3 separate regions of the Homo sapiens genome follow, and regions 2 and 3 are each linked to region 1. The links come from fine-mapping of genetic effects on gene expression. A gene starts in region 1. Each other region holds a variant in brackets. All regions are shown on one strand. Distances are between the middles of the regions.

Region 1 (9,820 bases):
CTCATCACATCTGTAATGCCAGCACTTTGGGAGGCCGAGGCGGGTGGATAACCTGAGGTCAAGAGATCAAGACCATCCTGGCCAACATGGTGAAACCCCATCTCTACTAAAAATACAAAAATTAGCTGGGCATGGTGGCGCGCATCTGTAGTCCCAGCTACTGCGGAGGCTGAGGCAGGAGAATCACTTGAACCCGGGAGGCGGAGGTTGCAGTTAGCCAAGATCGGGCCACTGCCACTCCAGCCTGGTGACAAAAGCGAGAGACTCCATCTTAAAAAGAAAAAAAAAAAAGATTTCCAAGCACTGTTGATGACCCAATTAAAAGTTGGAGACCAAGAATTTCTAGTGATGCCAACCCAGAGAACTGAATTATCTTCCCCAGCACAACTCAGAAATTCAGGTTAAGGAATTACAAGAAGTGCCTGAATGGTCTGTAGGACCAGCATAAAAACAACATAAGGCTCTGAATCACTCACTTCCCTCTTAAAAAGACTTAGTTATAAGACTGGTCATATTTTGCTTCAAATTTAAACAGTATCATAGTTTAACTCAGCCTTAGTAACAGGACTACAAACTTAATCACTGCCTTATATAACACCACTATAACTCCCTTATTATCTAGTGAGATATGAGAGTAAATTGAATAACACAATTTTGTCATTTAACTTGAGAGTAAACTGGATGAAATTAATGTTTCCTATTATTTGATCTCATCCTCTAAATACGCAGCATTAGATGTTATACAACACATCTAAGAATTTCATAGTTCATAAATTTCTAGCAAGAAACATACTAAGCATTTTTTCCTTAAACACTTTCCAACCTATGCCAGTAAGTTTCAATATGCCAGTGAACTAAAGGAAAAATTATCTGAACACTCCTTGTATCATTGTAAATCTACCTTTAATACAGAAAATCATCTATATATTCTATATATTATCATATATTCTCTCAGGTAAATAAGAAAATATCTAATTTTTCTCAGGGGAAAGAAAAAACTGTGGGGAGGAAAAAATACTCTGGGCTCTCAGAAGTAAGATTTTCTATTACCCATAGATAGTTCACGATTAGAGGCCGGGCGCGGTGGCTCATGCCTCTAATCCCAACACTTTGGGAGGCTGAGGCAGGCAGATCACAGGTCAGGAGTTCAAGACCAGCCTGGCCAACATGGTGAAACCCCATCTCTACTAAAACTACAAAAATTAGCCAGGCGTGGTGGTGGATACCTGTAATCCCAGCTACTCGGGAGGCTGAGGCAGGAGAATTGCTTGAACCCAGGAGGCAGAGGTTGCAGTGAACCAAGATCGTGACACTGCACTCCAGCCTGGGCAACAGAGCAAGACTTCATCTCGGCGGGGGAAAAAAAAGATAGTTCATTATTAAACAGGAAAATAATTTTCTCACATTGGCTGTAGTAAAAGAGGGTTAGCTTAAAAATTCCTCCTCTGGGTCCCTATCTCTCACCATATGCAAAGATTAACTCAAGATAGATTAAAGATTTAAATGTAAGGCCCGAAATTATAATAATCCTAAAGAATACTTAGGAAAAAAGTTTATGATTAAGACCTCAAAAGCAAATGCAACAAAAATAAAAACAGACAAATGGAACTTAATTAAACTAGAAGAGCTCCTGCACAGCAAAATAAACTACCAACAGAGTAAACAGACAACCTACAGGATGGGAGAAAATATCTGCAAACTATGCATCTGACAAAGGACTAATATCCAGCATCTATAAGGAACTCAAACAAATCAACAGGAAGAAAAAACAAATAACCCCACTAAAAAGCGGGCAAAAGACTGAACAGACACTTCTCAAAAGAAGACATACGAGCGGCCAAAAAACATGAAAAAATGCTCAACATCACTAAGCATCAGAGAAATGCAAATTAAAATCACAATGAGATACCATCTCACACCAGTCAGAATGGCTATTATTAAAAAGTCAAAAAACAGATGTTGGCAAGGATGAGAAGAAAAGGGAACACGTATACACTGTTGTTGGGAATGTAAATTGTTCAACTCCTATGGAAAGCAGTATGGAGATTTCTTGAAGAACTCAAAACAGAACTACCATTTGACCCAGCAATCCTACTACTGGGTATCTCTCCAAAGGAAATTAAATCATTTCATCAAAAAGACATCTGAGCCAGGCACACTGGCTCACACCTGTAATCCCAGCACTTTGGGAAGCCAAGGCGGAGTATCACTTGAGCCCAGGTGTTCTACACCAGCTAGACGCCATTAAAAAAAAAGAAAAAAATCTGTGCTCATATGTTTATCACAGCACCGTTCACAATAGCAAAGTCATGAAATCAACCTAAGTGTCCATCAACAACTGAATGGGTAAAGAAAATGTAGTATGTATTAATATACATTGTGGAATATTATGCAGCTATAAACAGAATGAAATCCTGTCCTTTGCAGCAACATGGATGGAGCCTGGAGGCTATTTATCAAGTGAAACAATTCAGAAACAGAAAATCAAATACCACATGCTCTCACTGGTAAGACAAGTGGGTACAATGGGTACACAGAGGCATAAAGATAAATGGGTACAATAAGTACCCACAGACATAAAGATGGAAATAAACAGACACTGGGGGCTCCAGAAGGAGGAGAGAAGGGCTGAAAAATTACCTATCAAGTACAATGTTACACTATCACGTACAAAGGTATATTATTTGGGTGAGAGGTTCACTAGAAGCCCAAACCTCACCATTATGCAATATATCCATGTTAATTACGTGCATATGTACCCCCAAATCTAAAATTAAATTAAAATTTTGTTTAAAAAACTCCTCCTCTAGGCTTCAAGATAAAGTTTGAATATTAATAGTTATTCAAGCAAGAAGTCACAGGACAAAATAAAAGTTAGAAGACCTAGTCAACAAGTGTGGCTTTAATTATGGTCTCTATGTAAATGACTTACAACTTGAAATCTCTAGCCCAGCCTTCTCCTTCAATCTTCAAAACCAAACTCATAATCTTAAGACTCACCCAACCAATTCCACCACCCACTCACAGCCACCACCTCCACCATAAATCTGGCCATATCTTAATATTGGCACAACCATTCAAACAATAACCTAACACCTGGCTACTTCACCTTTCACATCCCATCCGTTATTAAGTATGATGATTTTGCCTCTTAAATATCTCTCAAATCAGTCCACTTTTCCCTGTATCCACCAACACTTCCCTATTCCAAACTTTCATCATCTTTTGCCGGGCAATGCTGCAATGGTCTCCTAATTTATGCCCTTGACCTATGGCTACTGCTCCCCATCCCACCTTGCTATCACAGCTGTTCCACACTCTGCTATACACCTGACCTTTCTGAAACACCTAACTTATCATACATCCCCTCGTTTCAAATATTTTCTTCAACTCCCCAAAGCTCCAGAGATAAAGCCCCTAAATCCTTGGCATAGCACACAAAGCCTTGCAGTCTGTGCTCAAACCACGTTGGCTTCTGGGTCCTGGAAAATGCCATGCTCTCTCTCATCAACAGTACCTTTTCATGTGTTTTTCCCTCAGCTAGACGGCTCTTTCCCTCCCCTTTGCCTGATTAACCTTAAACTGTCTTCAGATATCAGCTCTATCATAACCTCCTCAAGAAGGCTTTCCCAACTTCACTGACAAGGCCAGATTATCTTACTTTATGCTTTCATAGAATATTAGCACATATATTAGTTTCACTTTATGTGATCATCTGAAATCTGTCTGCCTCCCTGTCTAGACCATGAACACAAGGAAGGCAGAGACCAAAAATGTTTGGGTTCACCAAGCTTTCCTTAGCACCCAGCACAATGTGTGGCACATGGTGAATTCTAATAATACATGTTCAATGAATTAAGTACCCCCTGGAATATTCACCAGACAAAACAACAACTACTGCTCATTAGTGACAAAACTCTACACCTTCACTGTCTGTGATGATGGAACTGTTCCATTATCTGCTCTGTCCAACATGGTAGCCACTAGCCTAGTGTGGCTGCTGAGCACTTGAAAACCGGTAAGAACAGACGCATGGAATTTTTCATTTAATTTATTTTTAACTCTTACTCAAAACTATAATAGTTTTCTCTTTAAGATGTAAAAAGCCACACGTGGCCAGTGGCTACTGTACTGAGCAGGGCAGGTCTTGCTCCTCGAAAAGCAGTAAGTTAAAAAAAGGGGGGTAAGGGCAGCAAATTAAATGGAGAGTTATTTTCAAAATGATCTTCGGGGGTCTACCATGAAATCGGCTTTCTCCATTGTGTATTATCTGTGCTTTGTAGTTTTGCAGACTGTTTGGAGCCGCATCACAAGCCTCCTGCATTCCAAGCCCCTCCTATCGGCTGGGGAACCCCTTTATTGCTACAAATGATGGTCCAGGGGAGGAAAACCCGCGGGGAGCCTCTCCAGACTAAGTGATCGCGCGGTGTACATTATCCACATTACTCCCTCAGGGGAGTCCTGCAATTCAGTCAAGCTCATCTGTTCACTGTCTCCCCAACAAGATGCTCCCCAGGCAACCACTCGCTCCGGTCCTACACCGCCTTTTCCCTCCTTCAAGGCTCGACACACCCGTGGTCCTCTCTCAGCGTTTCTCACGGGGAATGCAGGCTCCCCTGAACGTCTACGGGAGTTCAAAAGGCCCAGGACCCACCGAGGGGGAGGAAACGAGAAGTCTTTGCCACAAAGCCTGGGAGACGCGGAGCAGCCGGCCGGCACCTGGGCTGGAGTCTGGGCCGCCTACTAGCCTCAGCTGCGCGCGTTTTCTCCGTCAGGCGGCGTGACCTGCGGGCGGGCGGAGCGCTCGGGGCCCAGCCTCCACCCCCAACTCGCCGCGGCTCCACACCCCTCCCCGGCCCGCCTCACCTTCTCCAGGGAGGTCCGCTCGCCCTCCGAGTAGCGGTGCTGCGGGGGCGACAGCGGAGGCAAAATCCTGCCGGGGTGCGCCTGCAGCCAGGCCTTGGCCTCCTCGTCCTCCTCGTCGTCTATACTTTCCAGATGCTGGGGCCCGTAGTGAGAGTCGGAGTCCAACTCCCGCCCCGCCTCTTCCTCCACCTCCTCCACGACCACTACGTCGTCCACGTTCGCCGCCGCCGCCGCTGCAGCCTCCTCCTCTTCCTCCTCCTCCTCCTCCTCCTCCTCCTCCTCCTCCTCCAGCTCGCCCGGCCATGGCAGATCCTCGGGCTCCATGTTGGTGTCTCGCTCTGGGCGGCAGAGGAGGAGGAGGAGGGGGGGAGGGAGGGGAAGGGGAGAGCCCTGACTGGCGGTTGTGGCCCAGCTTAGGCGCAGTGCCGCCCGCCTGGGCGGGGCCGGAAGACCGCGCGCGCGTTGCTAGGGACGCCGCGCGAGGCCCGGCGGGAACGCCTTAGGGCGGAGGTTTGCTACAGGCGACGTTGCCGCCTCGCCGCCGTCACCGGCCGGGACCTTGCGAACTGTACTGTAAGCTCACAATAAACCGGGACTGGGCGCCTTCCGGGGCGCAGAGGGCCCCGCGCAAGGACAGTGTAGTTCTCGGCTGGGGTCGAGTTTCGCCCCTGCACAGAGAAGAGATCAAACTCTAGGACGTACCCGTTATAATCACACATGCAAATTATAAAGTTTTAAAGGTTGAGTATCTCCTAAAGTGTCAAGCTGTATGGTGGGCGCTTGAACCTAACCGTGGAAAAGTGTCACGGGTTGTTAGAGGGATTAAGAACTGGGCACTGGCATCAGAAAGATCGGAGTTTGAATCCTGGCATCACCACTTAAAGTGGTGTGACTTTGTGTTTATAAAACGATGATAATAGGCCATCGCATAGGATGGGTGTGATAATTAAAGGAAATAATCAATGTGAAGGACTTAGTGATAGGTTGGTTATTGTACAATAACTCATTAGATGCTCACGGTTCTGTGAGACAAGTATTACTATTTCATGTATGAAGAATCTGAGGCTAAAAAAATTAATTTGCCCAAAGTTTCTTACCTAGTAAGTGGCTGACTCAGTATGCCATCCCAGGTCCTCTGTTAGTGTAGGAATTGCCCTGGCCTAGACCAACCAGCTGTTAAAGGATAACAGAGCAAATATTTATACTGATAGTACATATGTTTTGGTGGTTCGTCAATGACTTTGGAGTGCTTTAAAAACAAAGATTTCCTGACCGCTTCAGGAACCTCTACGAAATGAATGGCAAATTAAAGTATCTTAAGATGCCATGTAACCAGACACCACCTGTACCCCCAATAACCTATGGGGAAAATTTTTAAATTAAAATTTTAAATAATAATTATAATCTTGAGATGCTTCACTGTTACCAAAGGAAATAGCCATAATTAAAGTGGAGTCCAGCAAAAAGTCTTCATGGTATTACCCACAATAGTAGAGATACATTGATAATGATGCTGAACCAATGTTGGTGGGGCAATTTTAGGGTTATTGCCAAGGATGTATGTCCTGCCTACCTGTCAATGACCCAATCCTGGCAAAACTTTAAGGGTAGAACATGAACTGGAGCCCAGTCTTGGAGTTCTGTTGAACACCTCTAAATGGACTATGAGTACATTAGGGTTATTTATTCTTAAGGGGTTTAGGGGTTCTCCTTGCCGGAGACCTATTACTGTAATAGTAGAAAAGAATTTATTAATTTTGTATTCCTGAATGTGAAATCTCAATGTTTATCTCCAGTAAGAGGACACACATTTCACTGATATTAAATAACTGTAAAGCTTTACCTTTTTAGAAACTCCGCTATCTTTTTGCATCCACAAATTTCAGGAAAGATAAAGAGAACTAATAGAATTCTAAAAAATAGCTTTCAAAGTTCTCTAACTTCCATCTAACTTCCAAAGCCCAAAGTACTTCTATTTGCCTTGATGGCAATAAGGTCAGTCCATTCTAAGGCCCATAAGTTATCTCCTTCTGAGTTAATAACAGGCTTCCTCATGTATTTGTGAATTACTTCCAATACTAGATGCTACTAATATAAGCTGTTATCACTAATTGCTGCAGGAGACTTCTAAGATTAACTCCTGCTTTATCAACAACAGATGGAAGCTGCATTCTCAAAGCACCCACCTAAGCAGCTTCTGAAGTTAGAGATTTGGTCTTCTGAAAAAGCATTAGAAAACAATTTCCCTTGAGCCTCAATGCAAGAAAAAAAAATGTCAGGTACTATCAACAACTGACCCAGGAGTAAAACTAGAAGACATTGATCCCTGGATTCATATTACACAACTAAAAAGACATGCATCATTTTCTCCTGGCTACCGGACATCCCATACTATTGGAAGACCTCAAACTGAAGATTCCTGGGACTTCCCCAGAAGCTGCTTACTGCAGAAATGGGCAGTTTATACCCAAGACAACAGGACAAGATTAATTTCTGATTCCTTGGCATCTCTTACCCTACCACTAATCTTGCTTATTGCATTTTGACACCCTTGATTAACTAACAAATTGATTTCTCGGGGAGATAACCCTTATCTTCATCCTGTTACTTTTGACTCCCTATGTTCTACTACTTAAAGTAAACATTATTTGGCCAGGTGCAGTGGGTCATACCTGTAATTCCAGCACTTTAGAAAGCCAAGGTGGGAAGATCACTTGAGACCAGGAGTCTAACTAACGTAGGCAATGTAGCAAGACCCCCATCTCTAAAAACAATAAAAAATTAGCTGGGCATGGTGGCACGTATCTGGAGTCCCAGCTACTCAGGAGGCTGAGGCAAGAGGGTCCTTGAAGCTCAGGAGTCCAAGACTGCAGTGAGCTGTGATCGTGCCAATGGGCAACAAAGTGAAACCCAATCTAAAAAAGAAAGAGAGAAAGGGAGAAGAGAGAAAGAGAAAGGAAAGGAAAGGAGGGGAAAGGGGAAAGGGAAAGAGAAAGGAAAGGGAAGGAAAAAAAGAAAAGAAAAGAGACACTTTCTGGAGTGTTTTTCTCAAACCGTAGCTACTGCTTTTAAGGAATTGTTGACAAAATTTAATAACTGTGCTTTCATAGACTTCATCAAGTAGATTTTCTTCTGTAGGTCACTTCTGGTACTTAAGCATTCCCCACAAAGTTCATCCCAAACCTCAGTCTTCTAAAAATTGGACCTTGACCTACACTTCAACAGAATGTTTCCCTGAAGTCATTACAATCCTATGAGAAAAACCTAGCCCTTCAGGAATAGAAACTAATATTGGGGCTATTCTTTATACACTACTCAGGTCATTCTCTTCCAAAACATTCCAGCCTGCTTTGGAGAAACCTGTTTAACTTCATCCAAGAAATCTGCTTATCCTGAGGGAAAGAAAGTTGGCTTGTCCCTGATGTGCTAAATAGCCCTTATCCTCCCAATGCAGTCTGTACTCCCCTAGGGTACTACTTATTTATGGGAACATCTGGCTTGCCCACTAACTTACCCTTTATATTGAAGCTAATTGTTAGAGACCCTCCAGTGCTTAAAATTACCACCCCTCCAGTAGACTGTGTTTCTTTGAAAAGAACACCCAGAAACCAACAAAATGAAGCAAGCACACAATCACAGACTACTTGGGAGAACTCCCAGGAGGGATAACTGACTCATTTTTCATGTGTACTCTGTGAATGAAATTCCTACAACAAAGATAATACAACAGAAAGAGATCAGATCCAAGAGAGGTATTTGACCTTAGCAGACCCCATAGATAGCAAAACTTCTGCTATAGCAGCTCAGAAAACCACTTAAATTTGAATTCCTTAGCCAGAGTTTTCATGGATAATTATATAACCCTTGATTTCTTCTTAGCTGGCCAAGGAGGAGTTTGTATTTAGCAACACTTGTCACCATACTCACATACTACTGGGCCAGTAGAACATACTACAGAGTCAGTAGAACATGAGTAAACTGAAAAGAGAAAATCCTCCTGGCTCCCTAAAAACAGACTCAGCTGGATTCTGGGGCATGTTTTCATTGCCAGGACTTTATAATCTGGGTCCCTGTCTTCAAGACTTTTTACAAAGATGGATAATCATTTTGTTTCTGGTAATTGCTTCTTTTGCACTTGGTCAACGTATCCTATCCACAGCCCTAGTTTCTGCACAGCCATTGTCATATCATATGATTCAACAAATCCTACAACAGAAGGCGGAATTAACCCAACTACAGACTGCATCCTCCAGATCAGCATAAATTTAGCAATAGTGAAAATCTGAATATCATAGATTAATGGTCCTGTGGCCTGACTTTGTCTACCCTTGACCAACTGGAGGACTCACTAAATAAATCTAGGGTGCCTGGGAACTGGTCTGACACAGGTAACTAAGCCTCAGGGTTGTCACATGCTGGCCTGGCATTCACCATCATCCCTCAATATTCTCCTGTTGAGCATAAATAATCTCACAGAACACCGACATCACACATGGTCTTTCTGTGACTGAAGAAACGAGACATGACAAGACCATTTCATAACCTTGCCTAAGCACAGACAAAAACAACGTTACTGTGCACATCAAACACCCTCCTTTTCCAGTTAATTTGATGGCTGTTTTTTTAAATCAATTATAGCTCTACCATCACTGTGGTTTGTTTTTTTTTTTTTTTTTGCTGTCACCTAGGCTGGAGTGCAGTGGCACGATCATGGCTTACTGCAGCCTCGACTTCACCAGCTCCAGTGATCCTCTCACCTCAGCCTCCTGAGTAGCTGGAACAACAGGTGTGTGCCACCGTGCTCAGCTAATTTTTTTTTTTTTGGTAGAGATGGAGTTTCGCCATGGTTCCCAGGCTGGTCCTGAACTCCTGGGCTCAAGCAGTCCACCCGCCTTGGCCTCCCAAAGTGCTGGGGTTACAGGCTTGAGCCACTGTGCCCAGCCCATCACTGTAT
Region 2 (11,597 bases), 40 kb before region 1:
GAATTTGAACCATGGGATTATTCTGGACAAGCTCAGGTATTTCTTTTTAAGGTAGAGAGGTGCACTGTGGACAAGAAACAGTAAGAAGGAAAAAGAAAACAGGAATATTTTCTAGAAACTCACAAATGTTTAGAAGAAAAATGAGAGTATCAAAGAACTATAACTGTGATCGGTTACCAACAAGCATAAGTCCTCAAACTTCTTAAAACAAAAGTAGTGGAAACTATAAATTGGTAGTGAAGTAAAGGGTAACTGCTCAAAAAGAAGTTCCTAATGTTTCATCAAGTCACAAGTTCTTGCTAGAAAAGAAATTAGAAACCAATATTGGTGACATTAATACCTAAACATGTACAACTTTTCACCAAATTCACAGTGCACCCTCACATAAAAATATATATCATTTTTAGATTGTCTTTATTTCCCTAAAAAGATTATTTCAGTCACATCTTCTCAGGATGAAGTCTAAAAATGTACATAAGCATGAATTTTTCTATCCTCTTTCATCAATTTTTCATTGTGTAGTAATGAACATTCTTAGGAAGCCATGTGAAGTGTGGAAATGAACATTCCATATCTATTTCTATATCTACATCTACTGCCCATACAGGTTTCTCTACTTTTCAACTTGTGAAGATTTTGTACCCATCAAGGGACATTTGACAATGCCTGGAAACATTTTTTGCTGTCATAACTTGTGAGGGGAGGGGATGTTACTAGTATCTAGTGAATAGAGGCCAGGGATGGATGATGCAAAACATCCTACAATACTCAGGAAACACGCCTCCCACCATAACAAAGAATTATCCAACTCAAAATGATAAGGCTGCTAAGAAGCCCTGCTCTCCACATAGCACAAAGTTCATAGTTTTCAATTACCTCACTCCTACAGGAAACTTCTCTGAAGTACAGGCTATATATATACACATATATACATACACATAAATATATATAAATATATATGCATATATATAATATGCAGTCATAGATCACTTAATGATGTGGGTATGTTCTGAGAAATGTGCTGTCAGGCAATTTTGTTGTTGTGCAAACATCACAGAGTGACTTACACAAACCTACAACTGTGTAGCCTACTACACACCTAGGCTATATGGTCTAGCCTACTGCTTCCAGGATACAAACCTATCAGCATGTTACTGTTCTAAATATTGTAGGCAACTGTAACACAGTGGCATTTGTGTATCTAAACATAGGAAAGGTACAGTAAAAATACAGTATTTTAATCTTATGGGACTACCATCATATATGCAGTCTGTCACTAACTGAAATATCATTATGTGGCATGACCATATATAATATATAGACACTTGTGAGAGACAGTGTGTGTTTATAGTTTACAGCAGTTTTTCTTCTACAGCTTTCAAACACAGAAAGAAAAATTTTTATTACAAGCTTGACGTCAAAAAAATTTCATTATGTTAAAGTTTCAAAATATAGAACTATTAAAGTAGGTAATACCGGCCAGGCACGTTGGTTCACGCCTGTAATCCCAGCACTCTGGGAGGCCGAGGCGGGCGGATCACGAAGTCAGGAGATCGAGACCATCCTGGCTAACACGGTGAAACCCCGTCTCTACTAAAAATACAAAAAATTAGCCGGGCATGGGGGCGGGCACCTGTAGTCCAAGCTACTCAGGAGGCTGAGGCAGGAGAATGGTGTGAACCCGGGAGGCGGAGCTTGCAGTGAGCTGAGACCGCACCACTGCATTCCAGCCTGGGCAACAGTGGGAGACTCTGTCTCAAAAAAAAAAAAAAAAAGTAGGTAATACAAAAGAAAATGTAAAATGAAAAATATGAGAAGTATTTATTTAAGAAACCAGCAGATCTTCATTGCTAATTGAAAATGGAAAGAACCAGGAGAAAACAGAAATCAAGATTCGTTTATCTTCCCAATGTTTAATCAATAATGAAGAAAGAATGAAAGATGACCAAGAAACCAGAAAAATACTAATACCTTTCATAAAAACTCAGGAACTCTACAAGTCAGTCTAATTTTAGGAAAAACATGAGTTATTTTGCTATAGAGCAAGTTGAATTTGGGGTGATGACAATGTTCACAAGAAAACATGCAAAATAAATTAGACAAATATTAGGGTATAAAAACAGAGGTGATAATCATCCACACAGAGACAGGCAACTAGGTCTCCAAAGGTGGGGGGATATGAAGGGGAGAGAAAAGAAATCTAAGGCTTAAACCTTAAATAATTTTTAGAGCTAAATGGCCAAAACAAGAGGTACTAAAATAGCATATTAGGCCAGGCACGGTGGCTCACGCCTGTAACCCCAGCACTTTGGGAGGCTGAGGCAGGTGGATCACCTGAGGTCAGGAATTCGAGACTAGCCTGTCCAACATGGTGAAACCCCGTCTCTACTAAAAAGACAAAAAATTAGCCAGGCATAGTGGCAGGCACCTGTAATCCCAGCTACTTGGGACGCTGCAGCAGGACAACTGCTTAAACCCAGGAGATGGAGGTTGCAGTGAGCTGAGATTGTGCCATTGCACTCCAGCCTGGATGACAAGAGCAAAACTCTGCCTCAAAAAAAAAAAAAAAAAAAAGCATATTAATTATGTGCTGCTACCAAGAAAAAGGAGAAAGAAAAACAAAATAATGATAGAAAGTAGGAAACCACCAGAGACTCTAGTAGTCTAGTTTCAGCAAAGTGAAGAGAACTAACAACCAGGCACTATATAAATGCTACATAACTTACCCCATTTAATAGTACGATGTATAAGGTTATTACTATTCCTATTTCCTTATGCAGATCAGGAAAGTGATCCTCCGAAGTCATTTGCTCAAGACACAAGGCTAACAAAGTAACTGAACTGGATTTTGACTCAAAATCTCTATGTTCTTTTCACAGTTCCAAGCTCCATCATACATACGTGGATACCCAAATAATCATTTATGAGGAGTAGATATAAAAGTGAACCAAGTAACTATGAATGACTCTTCTGTGACACAGATGAGGAGCATAAGGAAAAACCAAGGAGTAAGCAAGCCCCTGAAAGCAAGCTAAGCCATGCAGAAAAAGTACTACCACATCTGGCTCCTTGCTTTTCTGATATTGACATTAAATAACTCCTAGATCTAAGACTAAGACAGATAGAGCTACAACTGAAAGACAATACAGGGAATAATAGCATCTTCCTTAGATTGAAAGAATAATACTTCAGGCTATATTTAAGGACAGATTAAAATTTGGAGCAGTGGTCAAAGCTAGTCTCTGCACATTAACTGAACCTATATATCTTTATTTTTAAAATACATTTTATCTACATGAAAGGTTGATGTAAGTCACAAAAGTAGTATTAAAAATTTAGAACACTTTAAAAGTTGTTACTTTGTTTCTCATTGTTATTGAACTCAACTTTAGGCAATCTCCTTCAAAACCTCTACTCTTGCCAAAATAATGCAAAATCTTAACCTTAGTTTCACCAAGAATAGTTAAAAGGTGGGGGGAGGGGGAACAGTTTATGGTATGGTGGTTAAGTACACAGATATGGTTAGTTTCAAATACTGGTTCCCCCAATTGCTGAATAATTATGAGCAAGTTCCTAAATCCTCTAAGTGTCAATTGCAAAATAGGGATGATAATAATCTCTAACAATTCTATTTGATAGGATTGACAGAGGACAAAAACGAATTGATATATACATGTAACCTCTTAGCACAGTACTTGAGCACAAAGTGTTAACTATCATTTTCATCCCCAGTTATCAGATTAAAATTAAAAAATGCCTAGTTTGGAATACTGAAGAAAATAAACCTAGTGATTCTGTGTTAAAAAAACTTTAATAAATGTAATAAATTATAAATAAAAGTTCATCATAATATCTTTGTTCATTTTCTACCAACAATCTGAACCTAAAGGTCTAAATGTGGTTGTAACCCAAACTAATAGAGCTTTACAAAAACATACCAATCTTATACATAGGAAAAGAGAAGTAACATTAAGTACATCACTATTTTATCTAACTGTATTTAATGAATAACAGGATATAAGGCTATATCACAAGGAAGTAGGGCCCACCTTGGGACTTACAGTACCAGACAACAAAAGAGGATATTCATTCAACGGGACCAGAGGAACATTAATGCCAAGGGATCCAAGGATCCAAGCAAATAAAAGCCTTCTATAAAAGAATGACACAGGGAGGGGAACATCACACACCAGGGCCCGTCGCGGGGTAGGGGGTTAGGGGAGGGATAGCATTAGGAGAAATACCTAATGTAGATGACAGGTTGATAGGTGCAGCAAACCACCATGACACCTGTATACCTATGTAACAAACCTGCACGTTCTGCACATGTGCCCCAGAACTTAATTTAAAAAAAAAAGGCTGATATAAAATTTTTATGACATCCTAGAGTTGCCAGTTTCTAGTACACACACACACAATGGTAATAATGATATAAATAGAGAGAGGGAAGAGACATGTATATACATTAGTATGTTGCTCATTTGGGAAGGAGATACTTCCCTTTGAAGAGACACTGGCCAGTTTGGACGTTAAGCACTTCATTATCCTTCCTGGTCAAACATGGGTCTTACAATTTTCAAGACACCTCTGAAGTCAAGTCTTTCAAGAGCTTCTAAACAGAAATACTTAAATATTCCAGGGACTGTTTCAAGGCTTGTGCATTGAAGACCAGAGGGAAACATTCAAAGTACAAGCTTTTGGATGTTCCCATGAATAAGCCTAATCTTAACACTGTCTAAAGACTCTTGCTGGCACAACTAGGAAGAGTTAGGCTGCCTCAATATGAAAGGCCTGGAGCCCCATGGGATGCCTTTTCCAAGACACCACAGAACTAAGTCTTACAGTCTATGAAACATAAACATTTCTTTTATACCAACCTCTAATGGAACATATTCCTGGATATCAGATGAAGAACAGGTACAAGTTACAAGCTGGTACTGAAGGATATAATTTTTCAAATAAAGTATTTTCAAATAAAATTTGGAAATTTTTCAAATAAAACATTCCCTCCCCGCCCAGAAAAAAATGTCAAATAGAAAAACTTACAGGCTTTTCAAAATTGCTTTCCTTCTCAGATGGTAGTTGTAAAGTAGGCTGCCAGTGCAGGGAGCTGTCATGCATCTCTAGATCACCATGAAATTTCTC[T/C]AAAGCTGCTAGCTCAATGTACTCACCAGTCAAATGACATTGGTCATGTACCCAGGAAACAGTAAAAAGTAAAATAAAAACAAACAATACCATTTCCTGAAACAATACTGAAAAAGGCCACGTTTCTTACAACTATCATTTTATTGTGTCTCACCTTTCTTTGTAGTTCAGCAACTCTTTCACTGCATACAACAGCATTTTCATTTAGGCCATCCAGAGTAATGACGTCAGACTCAACCTTCCCCTGCAGGCCCTCTACAAAATAGGAGTCATTTTGCATAATTGTATGTATAGTAAAACTAGGCTCAGCTCCCACACACGAAGGACTTTCACCTTGGCCTATATCAGCTTTCAGCAATGTCTCTTGGGCGACTGCAATTAATGATGCATCACTGGTCAATGGTACAAGCACCTTGTGACTTTGCATCACATGCCACCAAGTTTGCTGAAAAGCTGCTTCCTACAGCTGCAGGTGGACCTTTAATGGCATTTCTACAGTTAACATCCTTACCCAAATTAAAGTTTGAGTAATCTGCAACTTCTTCAAAGGTTGGCTGCTTTAAATCTTGTAAAACCAAAGATTCTGAAGTTAATACTTTCACATGATAAATAACATCTGAAGATCCTACCTTCTCTGCAAGGTCAAGAGAAGGAACAGACTTTATCTTCCCAAAGGGAAGAAATGGTTCATTGCCTATATCACACTGAAATAAAGCTGACTGTGTTTTGCCAAGACCAACAGCCTGGTTGTAAGATTTTTCACTCAAAGAAGCAGATGACTTAAGCTCTGGAATAACACAAAGTGGCTTAATGAACATTTTCTGAAGAGCATTAGGGGGTAATTTTAAATTTGGATGCCAGTATAGGAAGCTATCATTATTACCCTTTTTATGCAACAATGGTTTTGAAGCTGCTGGTTCAAACACCCCAGGAGTAGACTGATAGCATGGATGTTTAAGCCTATCAAATAAAGAGGTTTCATCATTATAATTTAATGGAGAAAGATCTGGATTTTTTGGCTCTCTCTCGGCTGTCATCTGTTAAATATTTATTGATGTCAGCTTGGATTTCATTTACTGTACTCTCTTTCTTAGAAGGCTCAATAGAGGCAATAACTGCCTCAAAGGCTATATTTTCAGCAGCATCAATATTTTTCTCACCAAAAAGAGAAGTTCCCTTTTGGTTTCTTTCCTCTTGAAAATACAGTTGTTCTGATATCTCATCCAAGTTGGATATAACAATCCAACCAGAAGCCTCCATTTTAGAGGTATTATGTCCCCTGGAGAGTACATGTGCTTCTGAAACTTTTACAGAATTATCAGGAGCTATAACATTCCTAATATACTGTATTTCTAAGAATCTGGGTTGCACTTCTGAAGATACTAAATTATTTCTAGTCTCCGTTAGTTCAAAACATTGAGATGATTCTTTCTGTAAACCTTCTTCATTTCTTTCATAACCCTCCAAAGAATCCATCTTTTGTTTCACCTCAATCTCAGCTGGAGCCCTTAAATAAACATTCTCAAAATAATGACTATCAGAAGTCAAGGGAACCCCTTTTCCTCTTCTTTCCAACAAACAACACAAGAAAGAATATGACATTTTATGATGATGATGATGAGCAGCAACTTCACATGGAAAGGAAAAACAGTCCTTACTGATTACACACGTTTCTGGGTGGTGCAAAGTTCCCTCTTTGTTCCATGGCACATAGGAAAAGGGGACACTAAAATTGTTACTTCCCTTGGGAATTTTATTTTTATCAATTGTGTCAGATGAATCTGAAAAAGAATCAGGGTACTTACTGGTTAAATATGTTTCTGCCTGCTTAGATGAATCTTCCTGTGTCCAATACTGCCCATATGAACGAGCAGCATCAAAATGGTCACTTCTTTTAGTAGCTATGTTTTCATCAGTTATGTCAAATGAAGTTGCAACTGAAACTTGATCTTTATCAGCTAAATTGTTTTCAGGCCACTGTGTATCTTTTCGTGTCTTCCATGACATATATGAACAAAGATCATCATAACGATCACAGTCTTTGGGAATTTTCAGTTCATCAACAGACGAAATAGTCTCTTCATTATTCCCTTGTTCAGAAGGTAAAAAAGGGCACTGAGACCCAACAGCTGTGCTGCCTATAAGCGGGTGCTGAGATACACTAAAGCGACTGCTTGCTAAGTCTGAAGCTACTTCTGCAGTAGCCTGGAATAAAGCTTCACTAACTTCCGATGGTCGAGAAGACCATTCAGTATCTTCAGACTTATCAGGAATTCCCCTGAAAATATATAGTTAAAAATAAATAAATAAATAACATTAAAAACATTTAATTTTTAAGTACTAACACAAAAATACATATGTCACTGAAATCAAGTTTATTTGAAAAGTGTATTGAAAAACACAGCTCTCCTAATTTCAGACTCTTCTAAGATGGCTAATGACTGAGTAAAGCAAATTCTTTTTAACTAAAAGGTGAACTACCACCCTATAACCCTGATATTATCTCAGACTTCTCCTAAAACAATAGACACAGAATGTGATTTTCATAATGACGCCTACCATGATTTTTCATTTAACCTGCGTTAACTTTTTTACTAGTCATCATTTATTGTGCTCTTGAAACCATGCAAGGCCAGGCACAGTGGCTCACACCTATGATCCCAGCACTCTGGGAGGCTGAGGCAGGAGGATCACCTAAAGCCAGGAGTTCAAGACAAGCCTTGGCAATACGGCAAGACCCTATCTCTACAGAAAAATTAAAAATTGGCTGGGCATGGTGGCACATGCCTGTAGTACTAGCTGCTGTGGAGGCTAAGGCAGGAGGATTGCTTGAGCCCAGAAGTTAGAGGTCACAGTGAGCCATGATGGCACCACTGCACTCCAGCCTGGGCAACAGAGCAAGACTCCATCTAAAGAAAAAAAAAAGCAAACAAACAAAAAGAGAAAGAGAAAGAAACCACTTAAGAAGTGATCTATTCCCAAAACACAACAGTAACTTAATCATTAGTTGATGATCTAATGTGTATAGATCACTTTTCATAAAAGTGATATCAGGTAAATATATAGTATAAGGACAGAGGTTACTTTTTACTTTCTAAACATCTATAGTTTTTAATTTAAGGTGGGTTTTCAATTCTAAAAGAAGAAAACATATTCTTGAATAATTCCAAATATGTTTTGAAAATTCCAGACTTTTCTCCCATTATGACTATTCTAAAGGACATGAATTTGGAGTATCTGTTCATTTGGATATGTCTGTTCATAAAAATCTTCTTACTTCATATTGACACCTCCTATAAGGTAAGGAGAGCTAACTAGTCTCATTCAATAACAGCTGAACAAAATGAGAGTGCCAAACAAGTTAGTGAACAAGAAATAAATGCTTTTTGCAGAATAAGGGTGAGAGGGAGGAGAGAGATGATGGGCAGCAGATGGGGAGGTTTATAAGAAGGAAAATCCAGTGTGTCTTCTAAATTAAAATATGCCTGAAATGCCTGAATATATTAGGAATTATTTTTAAATAAACTACTGTCATCTGGTTCATCTCTACACATACGTTACTCTGCCAAATTAATATGCATCAAGTCTTAGTACAGGACTTTGTTACCTTCAGGGCGTGTCCTAAGAGTATCTAAGCCCCACCTCAAAGTCCCACCTTAGCCTGAAGTCACTAATATTAGTAAAAACATAGAACAAGAAGTGAGAAAGGTTACATGCAAATAAATCATCCTACCTCAGAGGTGCAAAACTTAGTTCACTTTGATGAAATAAAGAATCAGGCGCAAATTCTTGGTCTTGTGTCAAACAGGTCAGCAAAGGCAAATCAGGAGAAGCAAAGCTATCTTGTATGACTGTAAAGTTTCAAATATTAAATGCTGGGTAATGCTGAAAATTGATTATTTACTTACGTATATAATACTTTAAAGCACCTACATATGCTGCCATATGGAGAATTCTACAAGCATTAGAATAATAATATAAAAGCAACAGCAGTAGCAGCTACCATTTATTGAGAGTCTGACAAGGTCCAGGTGCTTAACACACAATATTTCATTTAATCCTCATGACAACCTTGAAAGATAGGTATTATTATATATATCTTATAGGTGAGGAAACATGATTACAAAACTTACAAAGCATTAAGTAACTTGTCCACATTCAAGTAGCTGAAATGCCAGAGTGAGATTTGAACCCAAGCATTTCAACTTTTAGCAAACGCTCTTAACTATTATGAGTGTTTCTTCCCATCTTACATAATATAGACTACACCCGTTATGTCAAAGCATAGCACAGGAGCTCCTGGGCCCTAAGACACTCTTAGGGGGTACCTAATGTCAAAATTTTATTCAAAATAATATTAAGATATCATATGCCTTATTCACTCCCATTCTCTCAAAAAGATACAGTGACATTTTCCAGAAGCTACAGAATATATGATACAGCAACAGATTGAATACAGAAACAGACATGAGAGTCTTGATGTTTTCTATTATGTCAGACATTATAGAATTGTTTAAGTAAAACATGGCCATACTTCTAAACATTTTTGTATTGGAAAAGTTATTTTTTATAAAATATGTACTTTTTCAATGAATTAATAAATACATTTTAAATGTTTCAGTTTTAATTTCTAATGTGGGAAATATCAATAACCCAAATAAACAAAAGCTCTTTGGAGTTGTCAGTAATTTTTAAAAGTGTAAAAGAATCCTGTTACCCAAAAAGTTTGAACTGCTGCTTTAATGAAAAAAAAATTCTTGTGATTTCCTGAATGTTGACTTAAATCATTCTTATTTTAATCAGTATACTTTCTTGATTTCAGAATGCCTGCAACACTGTGTACAAAGTGAGGACTCCTCTCTCACATTACTGTTCCCCCTGAAATTACTGCAAATCTAGAGTTCACAGAGCTCACCATGTTGTCATCTGTCCTTTACTTAGTCAAAACACATACTGTCACTGCTTATATACCCTGCATACCTTCCATATAATTCATCACCCTCTTGTTTTAATCTTCAGTCTATCCACTTCCCATCTAAATTGTCAACTGTGTCTACTTTATCCATAGCTATATCCTCAGTGCCTAGCAAAGTACCTGCTACACTTAAAAGGTACTCAAAAGAGAGTTATTTATTTACTGAATGAATTAATTAAAAATGAAAAACTGATATGTAACAATAACCTTTGCCACCAAGGAACAATTGGTACAGTTCCTCTTTGGTCTTGGCACAGAGAAGCAGTCTTAAACCTCCGTAACAGTCCTTCACCCCTCTAAAACTCATGAAGAGTTTTTAACAAAGTCCCCAAATACACTAGAGCTGATGCTACAAGGGGGACCTTTGGGCAAGTAAAGCAAATTTACTATTTCCAGTTAACTGCAGGCTGAGTATTTAAAGAATCTGACAGTCTTTTCTCAAAAAAAATTAGAGTTAACCCTAACTAGGTTTCAGAACCTACAGAAATCCTCAGTACCTAAAATAGCTATTTAAGTATAAGTAAGGAATAGTAAGTAACAAGTAAGTTACAAGCAGCATTTCAGCATCTCCTTAAATATTTAAGAATATCTCAGGGTGGAGTTGGACAGTTAAATCACATAAATAGGCAAATGTATTTGCTAAAGGAGCAGGCCAAAGCTGAAGAGTTAATGATTCTCAAGTGTACAACATTATCTGTGTGTGTGTGATGGGAAGGTGGTGTATTTTACTTGCCATGCCTTTTTCTTACAGCTTTCAACTGCTTCTTGTTTCCTCAAGTGTGGATATCTGTTACTGGCTTGCATCCCTCTTTTTTGAGGTATCTAACCATTCTGGCACCAGCCATCATCAATTACATTTGCCATTGGCGAGAGCCTATTTATCACAATGTTAGTACTTATGCGTAACAAAACAGCAATGATAAAATTTCCTCTGCCTATGAGATCCAGGAATCTACTCCAATAATTTAAAATGTTCTGCCCTAACTATAGTAAATGAGAAGCCAGAGTTATAAAACTTTACATTAGAAAACATTTTAGGTCACGAAGTACAATCTCCTCCCCAGTGCTAAAATCCTAATACAGAATTTTGCTAGACATTTTGCAGTGACATGAAGCTCACTTTTTGTTGTTGTTATATAGCCTTTTTTAGTATTAAATGGCTCTATTAGAAAGCTCTTTTTTACATCAATTTGAAAAATAGCTTCCCTTTAAGTTATGTATCCATTTTAAACTCTAGGAGTTAGCAAACCTTTTTTAATAAAGGGTCAGATGGTAAATATTTTCGGTTTTGTTGGTCATACATACTACTGTTGTTTGTTTTTACAATCCTTTAAAAATGCAAAAATCATTCTCAGCAGATGGACAGTACAAAATCAAGACTTGGCCTGTAAGCTATAGTTTGCAGACTCCTGCTCTACACCATTATAATACAAATCCCATGGTACTGTTATTTTCTGTTTACTGGATTGCCTTCCCA
Region 3 (11,641 bases), 160 kb before region 1:
TGGAAAAAAAGTAGTTTTTTGATATAGAGAGGAAGGAAGAAAGGCATTTTAGGCAGAAGTTATAGCATAAGCAAAGAAAAGAAGTATTTAAAAATAGTGGACACTTTATGGTCAGGTTGGATTGCAGAATACATTAAGGACAGTGGTAGAAGATATTAAAAAATAGTTGTTTGGGACAAAATTCACCAGTGCATGGGATCCCAAGCTGAAGAGTATAAACTTTATTGTATATAAAATGCAACATAACGGAAGATTTTTCAACAAAATAATAATATATTTAGCTATGTTTCCAGAAGATTAATCTGACAATACAAAAGACAAAACACTGAATGGAAAATGACAGATGATAAGTAAAAGATTTGAAAGTATTTAATTTTCTTTTAAAATATATTTCAATATTCCCACATTCCTTGATAAAATAAATTAATCTATAATCCATGCCACATCTAACAGGCAAAAGAACATTTCTGGACATATAAAGGCTTATACTAATCTCCTATGAGATGATTTTTCTAAGATCCTCTATTTCCTGAGCTCCTAGTATGTATATGGCAATAAGAGCTGGGTAAGTACCTGTATCATTAGTACAGTGCACAGTAAGCCCTGAAGAGTTTTGCAGGACAGACTGCAAGGAAAACACCAAGCCTTCTGGGCCAAATAGATTATATTGGGTTCTTCTCAACTTCTGTAACATCACTTTCTCTTATTTGCCTCTTACCTCTCCGGAAACTTATTTTTTATATTTTCTTCTACCAAATCTCTCAATGGTGGAGTTCCTTAAGGAGTCGGAACTGGCCTCTCTTCTCTTCCTAGGTAAACTTATCGACCACCAAGGTATATGCTGATGACCAACAAATAATGTACCATTGCCCAAGAGTACCTTTCTTCTGAGCATCCGACTCCAGCATTCAGGGACACGGCTAGCTCTTACAGCACTTTTATGGAAATTAGAAAAGATGTGTCTTCTTCAAATCAAAATGTTTAAGTTACTATATATTGTAGTACAACACAAACAACTGTAAATGGTGGTCATTCTTTTCACAAATTCTCCCAGGGAGTACACACCAGCAGCAGCATGTGCACGCACAGTCTGCACCACCACCCCTCGTTCTCCAAGAGAGATGACCCTTTCAAGTTCAGAGTCAGGTGAGGAACAATTACATCCCTGAGAGCAGTGGGTGAATAAGCAAGAGAATCAACCTCAGAGGAGGTGAGAGGCAGCTGAGAGAGTGCAGCCACACATGTGTGCGTGTCAGTGAATGTACATATACTTATTTTCCTGTACCTGTGCATAGCTATAGTATGTGCGAGTATAGATTTATGTTTGGGGCAGCACAAGAGTTAACATTATTGCTCCAGAACTCTAACTAAAGATCTGGAATATTCATGCCCATCTGTATGTTTTCATAAAAGTATATATTTATAATGTGAATAATGCCACCTTATATGTGGCACTATTACCTTAACATGTGTAAATTAACTCTGCCTACATTCAATTGTAGACCCAACATCTCTATGTGGATGTATAATAGGAATCTCATTTTTAACATGTCCAAAGCAGACATTTTGATCATCTTCCCCAAATCTGCTTTTTCCTCAATCTCCACCTCAGTAAATGGCACCTCTATTCACCTAGTTGCTCACGCCAGACATTTTTTTCACGCTCTTCTCCCTCACTCTCCATACTCCTATCACCAAATCTAGGAGAAACTATTTCTAAAAGGATGCTGACTGTCCATTTCTCCCTATCTCTATAGATAACACTGTGATACTCATGCTACCATCTCTGGTACTGTCTAAAGCAACAGCCTTCTAACTAACTGGTGTCTCTACTTGCACTCTAACCCGCCCCGCCATGGCTCTCCGCCTTCCCATCTATAAACCATTTCTCCATATAGTGGCAAGAATAAACTTTACAAGTATAAATCAAACCATAATTGCAGTAGTACTAGAATAAAATCCGAACACTTTAATACAGTTGATAAGATCCTGCATGATCTTGAACCCACCTATCTTTAACCATATCTACCCATCACTATGCTCTACCCTGTTAAATAAAATTTATGGGAGTCCATTGTTTTAGACTGAGCTCCTGCACTAAGCCCCAAGAGACCAAACCAAAATGTAGTCACTTGTACTAAATGCCATACAATCCAACTGAAACTTTAAGAAAGAAGGAAAGTTCCAAAATGGACCAGTTTTTTCTAAAAACAAGAGATTCACAGCAACTAACTGAAAAAGGGGCCAGTCACCCTGAGCTGGCGTAAAAAGGAACTTATCTCTGCTTTAATCTTTACCAGGTAAGTAACCTGATGTTAATCAATATGCTTTTTTTGGTATTACAGATGATCCACCACTTACAATGTAGTTATGTCCTGGTAAGTCCATCATAGGTTGAAAATACTGTTAGTCAAAAATGTATTTAATGCCCCTAACCTACCAAGCATCATAACCTAGCCCAGCCTACTTTAAACATAATCAGAACATTTACAATAGCCTACAGGTGGGCAGAATCATCTAACATGAAGTCTATTTTATAATACAGTATCAAATAGTTCATATAGTTTATTAAATACTGTACTGAAGTACGGTTTCTACTAAATGTGTATCATTTCCATACCATCATAAAGTCAAAAAATAGTTCAACGGAACCACTGTAAATTGGGGACTGTCTGTATTGTGTTTCCTTGTTCCTGGTCTGGCTACCTTACCAGAACCAACTCTCTCCCATGCCCAGTGCACCCTTTCCATATTATAGAATGGGATGTTGCCTGATTCATGAATCACTACAAAAACCAATCAGATCTTTAAATTTGTTGGAATTTCAACCCACGCTGCCTTCTTTCCATTTGTCAAATGCATCAAGCTCTTTTCTGCTTCAGGGGCTTTCCCCATCTTCTTCCCTCTCGCCGGAACATTCTCACACTCCACTCTCTGCCTACCTAATTCATTCCCATCCTCTAGAGTTCAGCTCAAAAGTTTCTTCCTGGAAAAGATCTTCATAAGTTCGTAAAACAAAACTGGGTCTACTTGTTTATCTTGGAACTCTTCTTATTTTCTTAGCATTTATCACTTGTAATTACGTACTTATTTATGGTTTATTTGTTTAATATCTGTCAACCAACGTGAACATAAACTCCATTATAGTTTATTTTGAGCAATACTGAAATTGTAACACCTACCACAGTGTATCTGCGTGGAACACAGTAACATCTTTAATACCTATTGTTTGAATAAACAAATGAACGTGAGCTGACAGCTTCCCATCATTAAAAACAAACAAACAAACAAAACAACCTGATCATTGTAGAAAATTCAGGAAAGTATGAAGGAAACAATAAAAGAAAACCCAACTAAACCTTGGTTATATATCCTACTAAGTGAACATTTACAGGGATCATACCATATACAGTCTCATTACTATTTTTTCACTAAAGTAGAGATACATTTTAAATGGAATTCAGGGTTTAAAGTCAGCATGTGAGGTGAAAACCTTGCTATAGAGGGTCAAAATCACCCTTGAAGGTACCTTAGGAAGGCATATGTTGAAATTGACATCGTGTCTGCTCAAGAAACCCATGAGGGTCCACTTTTTCCTCCAAGCTTGTAACATAGCACTGCACCTGAATCTGAGCACCTGATGAAGTATCTGATATTGTACCAAAAAGACATTTCTTCAAACTCTAGAATCATACCCAAATAAGCAAGATAAGATGCCTACACTACAAAAGGCAAACGAGGACTACAATTAATTTTGAGAATGAAGTTTCCCATCTTTCATTACATATTCTTCCGTAGTCATATGTTCATAAAGGGTAGAGTGCATGCACAAAACACCTGCACTTTTAAAATTCTTTCTCTCCTCTTTTGTTAAGTATATTTATTTGAACTTGCTTAAGTTAAATACATGCATGAGACAATATCAACATATGCTAAAATTATTTATCACAGCTAAAGACATCTCACCGAATTCCACTCATCTGATTTAACTGTTTATGCTATCTTAAAGTTTCCTGTATTTCTCGTTCTGTTACTTTGCTAATTTCGTATACTCAACCCTGATTTGGAACATAGACATCTACTTTTAAAATTCAATTAAGATTTTTGGTAACTTCTTAAGTTTTTTTAACTGTGGTAAAATATACATAAAATGTAACCATGACCACGTGCGGTGGCTCACGCCTATAGTCCCAGCACTTTGGGAGGCTGAGGCAGGAAGATCACTTGAGGTCAGGAGTTTGAGACCAGCCTGGCCAACATGGTGAAACCCCATCTCTGCTAAAAATACAAAAATTAGCTGGGCGTGGTGGTGGGTGCCTATAATCCCAGCTACTCAGGAGGCTAAGGCAGGAGAACTGCTTGAATCTGGGAGGCGGAGGCTGCAGTGAGCTGAGATTGTGCCACTGTACTCCAGCCTGGGTAACAAAGCAAGACTCTGTTTCAAAAAAAAAAAAAAAAACCACAAAAAATTAATCATTTTTAAGTGTACACTTCAGTGGCATTAAGTATATTCACACTGTTATGTAACCATCACTACCATCTATCTCCAGAACCTACTCATCTTCCCAGACTTAAACTCTGTACCCATTAAATAGTAACTTCCCACTCCCCCTAGCCCCAGCCCCTAGTAAACACAATTCTACTTTGTGTCTCCATGAATCTGACTTTTCTAGGTACCTCATATAAGCAGACTGGCTTATTTCAGTTGGCCTAATGTCTTCAGAGTTCATCCATGTTGTAGCATGTACCAGAATTTCATTCCTCTTTAAGGCTGAATAATACTCCATTACACATATATGTCACATTTTGTTATCCATTCATAGATCAATAGACATTGGGTTGTTTCCACCTCTTGGCCACTGTGAATAATGCTGTTATGAACATGGGTGTACAAATAGCTCTTGAAGATCCTACTTTCACTTTGTTGGGGTATATATTTAAAAGTGGAATTACTGGATCATACTATAATTCTATGTTTAATTTTTTGAGGAATAGCCACAATGTTTTCCGTAATGGCTATACCATTTTACATTCCCACCAGCAATAAGCAATGGTTCCAATTTCTCCATGTCCCTGACAACACTGATAATTTTCCATTCTTTGCTTTTTTATTTATTTATTTTTTTACTATACTTTAAGTTTTAGGGTACATGTGACAACGTGCAGGTTTGTTACATATGTATACATGTGCCATGTTGGTGTGCTGCACCCATTAACTCGTCATTTAACATTAGGTATATCTCCTAATGCTATCCCTCCCCGCTTCCCCCACCCCACAACAGGCCCCAGTGTGTGATGTTCCCTTCCTGTGTCCATGTGTTCTCATTGTTCAATTCCCACCTATGAGTGACAACATGCAGTGTTTGGTTTTTTGTCTTTGCAATAGTTTGCTGAGAATGATGGTTTCCAGCTTCATCCATGTCCCTACAAAGGACATGAACTCATCATTTTTTATGGCTGCATAGTATTCCATGGTGTATATGTGCCACATTTAATTAATCCAGTCTATCATTCTTGGACATTTGGGTTGGTTCCAAATCTTTGTTATTGTGAATAGTGCCGCAATAAACATACCTGTGCATGTGTCTTTATAGCAGCATGATTTATAATCCTTTGGGTATATACCCAGTTAATGGAATGGCTGGGTCAAATGGTATTTCTAGTTCTAGATCCCTGAGGAATCGCCACACTGACTTC[A/C]ACAATGGTTGAACTAGTTTACAGTCCCACCAACAGTGTAAAAGTGTTCTTATTTCTCCACCTCCTCTCCAGCACCTATTGTTTCCTGACTTTTTAATGATCGCCATTCTAACTGGTGTAAGATGGTATCTCATTGTGGTTTTGATTTGCATTTCTCTGACGGCCAGTGATGATGAGCATTTTTTCATGTCTGTTGGCTGCATAAATGTCTTCTTTTGAGAAGTGTCTGTTCATATCCTTCGCCCACTTGTTGATGGGGTTGTTTGTTTCTTTCTTGTATATTTGTTGGAGTTCATTGTAGATTCTGGATATTAGCCCTTTATCAGATGGGTAGATAGCAAAATTTTTCTCCCATTCTGTAGGTTGCCTGTTCATTCTGATGGTAGTTTCTTTTACTGTGCAGAAGCTCTTTAGTTTAATTAGATCCCATTTGTCAATTTTGGCTTTTGTTGCCATTGCTTTTGGTGTTTTAGACATGAAGTCCTTGACCATGCCTGTGTCCTGAATGGTATTGCCTAGGTTTTCTTCTAGGGTTTTTATGGTTTTAGGTCTAACATGTAAGTCTTTAATCCATCTTGAATTAATTTTTGTATAAGGTATAAGGAAGGGATCCACTTTCAGCTTTCTACATATGGCTAGGCAGCTTTCCCAGCACCATTTATTAAATAGGGAATCCTTTCCCCATTGCTTGTTTTTCTCAGGTTTGTCAAAGATCAGATAGCTGTAGATATGCGGCATTATTTCTGAGGGCTCTGTTCTGTTCCGTTGGTCTATATCTCTGTTTTGGTACCAGTACCATGCTGTTTTGGTTACTGTAGCCTTGTAGTATAGTTTGAAGTCAGGTAGCGTCATGCCTCCAGCTTTGTCCTTTTGTCTTAGGATTGACGTGGCGATGCAGGCTCTTTTTTTGTTCCATATGAACTTTAAAAGTCGTTTTTTCCAATTCTGTGAAGAAAGTCATTGGTAGCTTGATGGGGATGGCACTGAATCTATAAATTACCTTGGGCAGTATGGCCATTTTCACAATATTGATTCTTCCTACCCATGAGCATGGAATGTTCTTCCATTTGTTTGTATCCTCTTTTATTTCATTGAGTAGTGGTTTGTAGTTCTCCTTGAAGAGGTCCTTCACATCCCTTGTAAGTTGGATTCCTAGGTATTTTATTCTCTTTGAAGCAATTGTGAATGGGAGTTCACTCATGATTTGGCTCTCGGTTTGTCTGCTATTGGTGTATAGGAATGCTTGTGATTTTTCTACACTGATTTTGTATCCTGTGACTTTGCTGAAGTTGCTTATCAGCTTAAGGAGATTTTGGGCTGAGACAATGGGGTTTTCTAGATATACAATCATGTCATCTGCAAACAGGGACAATTTGAGTTCCTCTTTTCCTAATTGAATACCCTTTATTTCCTTCCCCTGCCTGATTGCCCTGGCCAGAACTTCCAACACTGTGTTGAATAGGAGTGGTGAGAGAGGGCATCCCTGTCTTGTGCCAGTTTTCAATGCTTCCAGTTTTTTCCCATTCAGTAATGATATTGGCTGTGGGTTTGTCATAGATAGCTCTTATTATTTTGAGATATGTCCCATCAATACCTCATTTATTGAGAGTTTTTAGCATGAAGGGTTGTTGAATTTTGTCAAAGGCCTTTTCTGCATCTATTGAGATAATCATGTGGTTTTTGTCTTTGGTTCCGTTTATATGCTGGATTACATTTAGTGATTTACGAATGTTGAACCAGCCTTGCATCCCAGGGATGAAGCCCACTTCATCATGGTGAGTAAGCTTTTTGATGTGCTGCTGGATTCGGTTTTCCAGTATTTTATTGAGGATTTTTGCATCAATGTTTATCAGGGATATTGGTCTAAAATTCTGTTTTTTGGTTGTGTCTCTGCCAGGCTTTGGTATCAGGATGATGCTGGCCTCATAAAATGAGTTAGGGAGGATTCCCTCTTTTTCTATTGATTGGAATAGTTTCAGAAGGAATGGTACCAGCTCCTCCTTGTACCTCTGGTACAATTCGGCTGTGAATCCATCTGGTCCTGGACTTTTTTTGGTTGGTAAGCTATCGATTATTGCCTCAATTTCAGAGCCTGTTACTGGTCTATTCAGAGATTCAACTTCTTCCTGGTTTAGTCTTGGGAAGGTATATGTGTTGAGGAATTTATCCATTTCTTCTAGATTTTCTAGTTTATTCGCATAGAGGTGTTTGTAGTATTCTCTGATGGTAGTTTGTATTTCTGTGGGATCGGTGGTGATATCCCCTTTATCATTTTTTATTGCGTCTATTTGATTCTTCTCTCTTTTCTTCTTTATTAGTCTGGCCAGCAGTCTATCAATTTTGTTGATCTTTTCAAAAAACCAGCTCCTGGATTCAATGATTTTTTGAAGGGTATTTTGTGACTCTATTTCCTTCAGTTCTGCTCTTAGTTATTTCTTGCCTTCTGCTAGCTTTTGAATGTGTTTGCTCTTGCTTCTCTAGTTCTTTTAATTGTGATGTTAGGCTGTCAATTTTCGATCTTTCCTGCTTTCTCTTGTGGGCATTTAGTGCTATAAATTTCCCTCTACACACTGCTTTGAATGTGTTCCAGAGATTGTGGTATGTTGTATCTTTGTTCTCACTGGTTTCAAAGAACATCTTTATTTCTGCCTTCATTTCGTTATGTACCCAGTAGTCATTCAGGGGCAGGTTGTTCAGTTTCCATGTAGTCGAGCGGTTCTGAGTGAGTTTCTTAATCCTGAGTTCTAGTTTGATTGCACTGTGGTCTGAGAGACAGTTTGTTATAATTTCTGTTCTTTTACATTTGCTGAGGAGTGCTTTACTTCCAACTATGTGGTCACTTTTGGAATAGGTGTGGTATGGTACTGAGAAGACTGTATATTCTGTTGATTTGGGGTGGAGAGTTCTGTAGATGTCTGTTAGGTCTGCTTCATGCAGAGCTGAGTTCAATTCCTGGATAGCCTTGTTAACTTTCTGTCTCATTGATCTGTCTAATGTTGACAGTGGGGAGTTAAAGTCCTCACATTATTGTGTGGGAGTCTAAGTCTCTTTGTAGGTCTCTAAGGACTTGCTTTATCAATCTGGGTGCTCCTGTATTGGGTGCACACATATTTAGGATAGTTAGCTCTTCTTGTTGAATTGATCCCTTTACCATTATGTAATGGCCTTCTCTGCCTCTTTTGATCTTTGTTGGTTTAAAGTCTGTTTTATCAGAAACTAGGATTGCAACCCCTGCCTTTTTTTGTTTTCCATTTGCTTGGTAGATCTTCCTCTATCCCTTTATTTTGAGCCTATGTGTGACTCTGCACATGAGATGGGTTTCCTGAATACAGCACACGGATGGGTCTTGACTCTTTATCCAATTTGCCAGTCTGTGTCTTTTAATTGGGGCATTTAGTCCATTTACATTTAAGATTAATATTGTTATGTGTGAATTTGATCCTGTCATCGTGATGTTAGCTGGTTATTTTGCTCGTTAGTTGATTGATGAAGTTTCTTCCTAGCCTCAATGGTCTTTACAATTTGGCATGTTTTTGCAGTGGCTGGTACCAGTTGTTCCTTTCCATGTTTCGTGCTTCCTTCAGGAGCTCTTTTAGGGCAGGCCTAGTGGTGACAAAATCTCTCAGCATTTGCTTGTCTGTAAAGGATTTTATTTCTCCTTCACTTATGAAGCTTAGTTTGGCTGGATATGAAATTCTGGGTTGAAAATTCTTTTCTTTAAGAATGTTGAATACTGGCCCCCACTCTCTTCTGGATTGGAGTTTCTGCTGAGAGATCAGTTGTTAGTCTGATGGGCTTCCCTTTGTGGGTAACCCGACCTTTCTCTCTGGCTGCCCTTAACATTTTCTCCTTCATTTCAACTTTGGTGAATCTGACAATTATGTGTCTTGGAGTTGCTCTTCTCGAGGAGCATCTTTGTGGCATTCTCTGTATTTCCTGAATGTGAATGTTGGCCTGCCTTGCTAGATTGGGGAAGTTCTCCTGGATAATATCCTGCAGAGTATTTTCCAACTTGGTTCCATTCTCCCCGTCACTTTCAAGTACACCAATCAGACGTAGATTTGGTTGTTTCATATAGTCTCATATTTCTTGGAGGCTTTGTTTCTTTTTATTCTTTTTTCTCTAAACTTCTCTTCTCGCTTGATTTCATTCATCTGATCTTCCATCACTGATACCCTTTCTGCCAGTTGATCAAATCGGCTACTGAGGCTTGTACATTCGCCACGTAGTTCTCTTGCCATGGTTTTCAGCTTTATCAGGTCCTTTAAGGACTTCTCTGCATTGGTTATTCTAGTTAGCCATTCGTCTAATCTTTTTTCAAGGTTTTTAACTTCTTTGCCATGGGTTCGAACTTCCTCCTTTAGCTCGGAGTAGTTTGATCATCTGAAGCCTTCTTCTCTCAACTCGTCAAAGTCATTCTCCATCCAGCTTTGTTCCATTGCTGGTGAGGAGCTACGTTCCTTTGGAGGAGGAGAGGCGCTCCGATTTTTAGAATTTTCAGTTTTTCTGCTCTGTTTTTTCCCCATCTCTGTGGTTTTATCTACCTTTGGTCTTTGATGATGGTGACGTACAGATGGGGTTTTGGTGTGGATGTCCTTTCTGTTTGTTAGTAACAGTCAGGACCCTCAGCTGCAGGTCTGTTGGAGTTTGCTGGAGGTCCACTCCAGACCCTATTTGCCTGGGTATCAGCAGCAGAGGCTGCAGAACAGCGAATATTGGTGAACAGCAAATGTTGCCGCCTGATCGTTCCTCTGAAAGTTTTGTCTCAGAGAAGTACCCGGCCGTGTGAAGTGTCAGTCTGCCCCTCCTGGGGGGTGCCTCCCAGTTAGGCTACTCAGGGGTCAGGGTCCCACTTGAGGAGGTAATCTGTCCGTTCTCAGATCTCCAGCTGTGTGCTGGGAGAACCACTACTCTCTTCAAAGCTGTCAGACAGGGACATTTAAGTCTGCAGAGGTTTCTGCTGCCTTTTGTTTGGCTATGCCCTGCCCCCAGAGGTGGAGTCTACAGAGGCAGGCAGGCATCCTTGAGGTATGGTGGGCTCCACCCAGTTCGAGCTTCCCGGCCGCTTTGTTTACCTACTCAAGCCTCGGCAATGGAGGGCGCCCATCCCCCAGCCTCGCTGCCGCCTTGCAGTTTGATCTCAGACTGCTGTGCTAGCAATGAGCGAGGCTCCGTGGGCGTAGGATCCTCCGAGCCAGGTGCGGGATATAATCTCCTGGTGTGCCATTTTTTAAGCCCGTTGGAAAAGCGCAGTATTAGGGTGGGAGTGACCCGATTTTCCAGGTGCCTTCTGTCACTCCTTTCCTTGGCTAGCAAAGGGAATTCCATGACCCCTTGCGCTTCCCGGGTGAGGCGATGCCTTGCCCTGCTTCGGCTCACGCTCGGTGTGCTGCACCCACTGTCCTGCACCCACTGTCCTACAATCCCTAGTGAGATGAACCCAGTACCTCAGTTGGAAATGCAGAAATCATTCGTTTTCTGCATCGCTCACACTGGGAGCTGCAGACTGGAGCTCTTCCTATTCGGCCATCTTGGCTCTCTCCGCTTATTTTTTAAAATAACAGTGATTGTAATGGGTGTGAAGTGGTATCTTACTATGGTTTTGTTTGGTATTTCCCTCATGATTAATGATATAGAGAAGATTTTCAGGTGTTTATTGGCTATTTGCACGTCTTCCTTGGAGAAATGTCCATCAGATTCTGTGCCCATTTATGAATCAGATTGTTTGGGTTATTGTTGTTGAGTTGTAAGGGTTCCTTACATATTTTAGGTATTAATCTCTCAACAGATAAATGATTTGCAAATATTTTCTCCTATGCTGTGAGTCACCTTTTCATTCTTTTGACTGGGTTTTGTGTACAAAAGTTTTGAATTTTGATAAAGTCTCCCATATATATTTTTCTTTTGTTGCCTTTGTTTTTTTGTTTTTTTGTTCTTTGAGACA

Evidence for each region.
Region 2: its variant is fine-mapped to the expression of ALMS1 in whole blood (TOPMed, PIP above 0.99).
Region 3: its variant is fine-mapped to the expression of ALMS1 in whole blood (TOPMed, PIP 0.96).

What each region holds. Positions count from the first base shown.
Region 1 is chr2:73,381,239-73,391,058 of GRCh38, reverse strand. It overlaps ALMS1 (ALMS1 centrosome and basal body associated protein), which reads right to left and starts at 5,223. Exons shown (of 23, transcript NM_001378454.1): 1 at 4,867-5,223. The coding sequence starts at 5,190. It overlaps LOC105374804 (a long non-coding RNA gene), which reads left to right and starts at 5,378. Exons shown (of 4, transcript XR_007087053.1): 1 at 5,378-5,606. RefSeq lists enhancers at 4,435-4,674, 4,715-5,464 and silencers at 4,735-4,904, 5,065-5,464.
Region 2 is chr2:73,420,256-73,431,852 of GRCh38, reverse strand. It overlaps ALMS1 (ALMS1 centrosome and basal body associated protein), which reads right to left. Exons shown (of 23, transcript NM_001378454.1): 4 at 8,879-8,996; 5 at 6,951-7,423; 6 at 5,300-5,400. Among named protein-coding and RNA genes, the nearest start is that of ALMS1-IT1, 31 kb to the left of the region's middle. The variant T/C (reference allele first, on the strand shown) is at 5,146.
Region 3 is chr2:73,538,000-73,549,640 of GRCh38, reverse strand. The region is part of intron 12 of ALMS1 (ALMS1 centrosome and basal body associated protein); the gene reads right to left. Among named protein-coding and RNA genes, the nearest start is that of ALMS1-IT1, 87 kb to the right of the region's middle. The variant A/C (reference allele first, on the strand shown) is at 5,698.